Regions from separate parts of the Homo sapiens genome. Here region 2 is linked to region 1. The links come from fine-mapping of genetic effects on gene expression. Tissue or cell type: whole blood. Region 1 holds a variant in brackets; the other region holds the start of a gene. All regions are shown on one strand. Distances are between the middles of the regions.

Region 1 (2,688 bases):
TGGATGTCAAAACAGGCTCTACTTTCCTTATTGGCAGTTTCTGACCAAGAATCCAGAAGAAGTGTCTAGGATATTGTCTAGAAACTTCAAAAGACATCCTCCCCTAAAAGTCACTCGTAGAGACACTCTAATTTTACTATCTACCTGCAGAGAGACTTAAAGTTTGCATTATCATATCCAGATGTTAGGAGTCCAGATGTTAGGAGAAGACTCAAATGAAGGGTATAATCACCTGGCAGCTATGGTAACCAGGTAACCTGGGAGTTCTGTCAGGCCAATGGCACTCATGTTCCCTTCTCTACCTCCCTGACTGCTGCTGGGCTTGAGCCACACTGGGAAGTGGTGGGGTCATTTCTCACACGTGGGACCGTGGTTACTCTGCACTTTTCTCATTCTTTTGCCATTATGGTGGCAGCAGCTTTGGCATCAACATGCATCCTCACTGTGAACATGAAGTCACAGCCCGTGGCAGAATGCATGTTCTACTACTTCCTCTCCTGGAGCCCCCCGGTATTTCTAACTATTGGTTGGATACTGATTGGAATAAAAGATAACAAAGAACCCCACATCTGTGGTTGGCTCATGGCTTTAGCCATAAACAGGGGTGAATATTATCATATCATATAAACTCCTTGTCTTACTAGTCATCAGATCCTGGTCTGACCAATGGTCATTGTAGCCAGGGGCTACCAGTATATCTCTTTTGTATGATTTTTAGTATCTGTACCATTGGCTGGATGACACTCGCCAGTCAACTTTCAGCTTTTTTTCCTCCTTAAGGTCTTTTGATGGATGGTTAGAGGAGTAGACAGGTCTCGAGGCCTAGGTTTATCTCCATACAGCTTTTATTGTACCCCATCCTTTTGCCAAGCGTGGGAAAGATTCCTAAGTTGTCACACATCACAGATCTTTCTTTCACTATCAAACCTGTTCAATTATATTAGTTTCCTAGCACTGTTGTAACCAATTATCACAAACTAGATGACTTAAAACAACAGGAATTTGTATCACAGCTCAGGAGCCCAGAAGTCCAAAACCAAGATGGCGGCAAAGTTGATTTTTTTTTTTCAGAAGGCTCTATGTGAAAATCGGTTCTATTCCTCTCTCCTAGCTTCTGGTGGTTTCTAGCAAACCTCGGCATTCTTTGGCTTATATCTGTGCTATTCCCATCTCTGCCTCTACTGTCACATGGCTTTCTTTCCC[G/A]TGTGTCTGTATGTCTTCTCCTCTTATAAAAACACAGGTCAAGGCCGGGTGCAGTGGCTCACACCTGTAATCCCAGCACTTTGGGAGGCCGAGACAGGTGGATCACCTGAGGTCAGGAGTTCAAGACCAGCATGGCCAACATGGTGAAACCCCGTCTCTACTAAAAATCTAAAAATTAGTTGGGCGTGGTGGCATACACCTGTAATCCCAGCTACTCAGGAGACTGAGGCAGGAGAATCGCTTGAACCTGGGAGGCGGGGGTTGCAGTGAGCTGAGATTGTACCATTGCATTCCAGCCTGGGCGACAGAGCGAAACTCCATCTCAAAAAAAAACAAAAACTACAGGTCATTGAATTTAGGGCCTGTCTTTATCCAGTATGACCTCATCTTAACTTGATTACACCTGCAAAGATGTGATTTTCAAATAAGTTCACATTCACATAAGTGAACAATTTTTGTGGAGGGTATAAATCTATCTACTAGAACAAGTATCAAAATGTTACTGCCTACTGAGAGCCACCCTTTTTCCCTTTGCCTCACAGTTTCTTGTCTAAACTGACCTCAGGTTCTGAGAATTGGCATTGTATCATCATGCCACTACTCTGTGGTACACCCTCTGGCTGACCACAAGCAATAATTGCAGGTTTGTTTTGCCATTTGCACTCATGCAGCTTAACTCCACAGGGGGAATACAGGACAGGAGATATAGCATGCAGACAGGGCCGCTTCAGGTGAGCTCTCCGTGAGGATTCTTTTGTTTTGTTTTGTTTTTTGAGACGGAGTCTCGCTCTGTCGCCCGGGCTGGAGTGCAGTGGTGCGATCTCGGCTCACTGGAAGCTCTGCCTCCCGGGTTCACGCCATTCTCCTGCCTTAGCCTCCCGAGTAGCTGGGACTACAGGCGCCCGCCGCCACCCCTGGCTAATTTTTGTATTTTTAGTAGAGATGGGGTTTCACCTTGTTAGCCAGGATGGTCTTGATCTCCTTACCTCGTGATCCGCCTGCCTCGGCCTCCCAAAGTGCTGAGATTACAGGGGTGAGCCACCGCGCCCGGCCTCAGTGAGGATTCTTACGGTGGTACAAGACCATGTGACCATGTGGATGCGTGTGAAACTAACGTAGCTTAGGTAAATCTTACATCAACGGATTGATTCCCTTGTAAAGACCATGAACATAGCTTCCAGGGCCCTACAGAGAATATTTTGTTACAAGAGTCTCAATCCTCTTACGGAAAATGAGGTCTGTGCTTACCAAAAAGAATAAAAATAAAATAATATACCAGGGGATGGTGATGGCGATGTGTTTTTTATAGGAAGAAAGGACTTAAGCCTAATGATAACCTTTTTTTCCCCCACATGTCTAGTCTGACTTCCAATCTTATTTCCTTTACCTTACCCTACTTCCCACCCTCATCTGCTTCTCTCTGTTAACTTGTCCTGCATCCTCCCATCCCTGCCCCCACCTCCTATTCATTGGAAAGAGACTGTC
Region 2 (2,688 bases), 33 kb before region 1:
CTTAACCCAGCTCTCTCCCTACTGCCCAATCCTCCGTCCAGACTTTTGTATGGACACCCCAGTCCCTTCTCTCTCTATACCTCCCTCCCCAAGCCACCTTCTAAGGCAAGGTGATACTCACCTAATCAGTCTCCTTAGGGAGGAACTTTGACATTCTTTTTCTTCTCAGAGTTTCTGTGCTATTGAAACCCTGTAGTTAGAGTTCTGAGGCTCAATAAGCTTTACATGTATTCATCAGACCTAAATAAAAACAAAGATTGTCTTCTAGTTATATAGGTCAAAATTACAGATACACACACACAGCTTTATACATACATACGTGTAATTTTAAACTGATGAATTTTAATGATCGTTTGGCAAAACATGCCATTATGCAAAGGGGCTTTTACTCGTATAACTTTATATGTTTATTTAGACATTTTAATTAATACGTCTATATGGAGTACAGGTGTATTATCAGTGTAATTAAACTCTGATATGATATTAGAAAGCTACAGTACACTGCAGACAATTTACAAGGGTCATCTCTGGCCTGGTGTTCTCAAAGGCCTCCGGATTTGCCGTTCATCAGGTAAGATGAACAGCTTTGCGTTGCTACCTTCAAAAATTCTTTTTTTTTTTTTTTGAGAGAGAGTCTCGCTCTGTCTCCAGGCTGGAGTGCAACCTCCACCTCCCGGGTTCAAGCGATTCTCCTGCCTCAGCCTCCCGAGTAGCTAGGACCACAGGCGCGCCCAGCTAATTTCTGTATTTTTAGTAGAGACAGGGTTTCATCATGTTGGCCGGGATGGTCTCAATCTCCTGACCTCGTTATCCGCCCGCCTCGGCCTCCCAAAGTGCTGGGATTACAGGGGTGAACCACCGCGCCTGGCCTCAGAAACCATCTCCATCTCCCTTACCACCTGAGGGGTCACTGGTGACCACACCCATGGAATCGGCTGGATCTCCTGCGGGGCTGGACAATTTGACCCTCCTCCTCCCCAGGCCCCGCCCCTTCCCCCCTGAGTCTTTCGGCCTGGGTGGAGGACGCGGCTGCTTCAAGTCCTTGGCTCTGATCCAGGCCACAGATTCCAGGTTAGTGAGCAAGTTTATTTTCTGGCCAGCTACCGCTGTCCCCACTTGTCTGGAGAGTTTGACCCGCTCTGCAGGTCGGGTTGGGGGTGGTTCACGGGTGAAAGAAGAATGAGGGAGACTTCTGCATTTTCAAGTGAACTCAAGTTTGGGAAGGGAGCACAGAAGAGGCACCTTTGCAGCTGGGAATAGGCCGTGTAAAGAGAGTTAAACCTCTATTCTACAAGCTGAAGTATGTAGAGGAGGCAGCTCTGGAAACTGCTTTAGGGAATCACTGCAAACCATTTTGTCAGGCGTGGATTCAGAGTCAGCATCCCTTCCCCCCTTCCCCCGTTCTCCCCTTCCCCCCTTCCCCCTTCCCCCTTCCCCCTTCCCCCTTCCCCTCCCCCATCTCCAGCCTGGCCGCTCCAGGAAGTGAGCACCGTTTATCCCCCACCCCAGGCGGCCCGACTCCTCCCAGAAGGAGTTGGGAGATGAGCCTTCCGCAAACTCCTGACCTGTGGGTCCGTCCGTTCAACGGCCAAAGGCTGGCGGAGGAGGGATCCCCTGCCTTTCTCGGAACGGAACGGAGCAGAGTCGTGCGTGGTTGAGTTTAGATAAAAGCCGAGTGAGCGCGCTCTGTTCCTTAAGATTAGTTTAAGGTGCCTTGGATTGCTCTGAAGAGCTTTGACCACCTGATATTGCTTACATCTGGAACTTCTTGGCTTCTCATTCCCCAGATGTGCGGGTCAGAGAGGTATGTCTACCGTTCTGTTGACTGGCTCTTATTGTCACTTCTGGCAGAGGTGACAGGGCAGTGAAAGAGATAAGGTCCTTTCCCTTTCGGAACTCATTATATCTTTATTTCTTTTTCTTTCTCACTGCAAATGACCCCACTGAGGTTAGAGACATTTTAATCAGTCAGTCAATAGAGACAGAAATGTGTGGTTAGGAGCATAGATGCCGCAGCCAGACTGCATGTGTTCAAATCCTGACTCTGACAGACACTGGCTGTGTGCCCGAAGACTGTTAACTTGACTTCTTTGAGCTTTAGTTTCTTCCATCTATAAGATGGACGGAGTAATATGTATATCTTAGAGTTTTGGTGAGGATTGAGTGAGACAGATTTAAACACGTAGGAGGCTGCCTGACACAAATTATGGTCATTATTACTGGCAAACTCCATGCCTAGCTTTAAAAAAATGCACAATCAAAACAATTTTTAAATTATAGGTTTCTGAAATGCAGGGGGTAGAAATTCTTTTGAAGTGGAAATTAAATTTTTTGTTTTGAAACTGATTATGTTCCAATTCAAATATTTATTGAGTCCTGTTAGATAATCAATTGCAGATAATAGGTTAAATATAACCCTACACAAAGATAAAAAAAAATGTTATTCCTAAAGTGCAAGAACTCATGCCCAACTCACTTATAAATGCAACTGCCACCTATTTTATTCCACTTTCACTAGGGCTCCCAGCTGGTGGACGGGCCCGCTCTGTCATTCCTAACTCTGAACCCCCAGCCTACACCAGCCCCAGTATCCCCTGCTGAGTCACTGATTTTTATTCTGAAAGCCATTTTGATATCGATGCAAGCTTCCATTCTAAAAGATGCTTCGTATCTAAATAGCAGGCCATT

What was found. PIP is the estimated chance that this variant, and not a neighbour inherited with it, causes the effect.
Region 2: it holds the start of TRIM6, and the variant in region 1 is fine-mapped to the expression of TRIM6 in whole blood (TOPMed, PIP 0.96).

The regions. Positions count from the first base shown.
Region 1 is chr11:5,627,750-5,630,437 of GRCh38, forward strand. All of the region lies in intron 7 of TRIM6-TRIM34 (TRIM6-TRIM34 readthrough), which reads left to right. All of the region lies in intron 1 of TRIM34 (tripartite motif containing 34), which reads left to right. It also overlaps a transcript of TRIM5 not described here. Among named protein-coding and RNA genes, the nearest start is that of TRIM34, 4.1 kb to the left of the region's middle. The variant G/A (reference allele first, on the strand shown) is at 1,204.
Region 2 is chr11:5,595,111-5,597,798 of GRCh38, forward strand. TRIM6 (tripartite motif containing 6) reads left to right here and starts at 1,527. Exons shown (of 8, transcript NM_001003818.3): 1 at 1,527-1,804. The coding sequence starts at 1,788. TRIM6-TRIM34 (TRIM6-TRIM34 readthrough) reads left to right here and starts at 1,527. Exons shown (of 14, transcript NM_001003819.4): 1 at 1,527-1,804. The coding sequence starts at 1,788. It also overlaps a transcript of TRIM5 not described here. RefSeq lists enhancers at 849-1,143, 1,298-2,215, 1,462-1,511.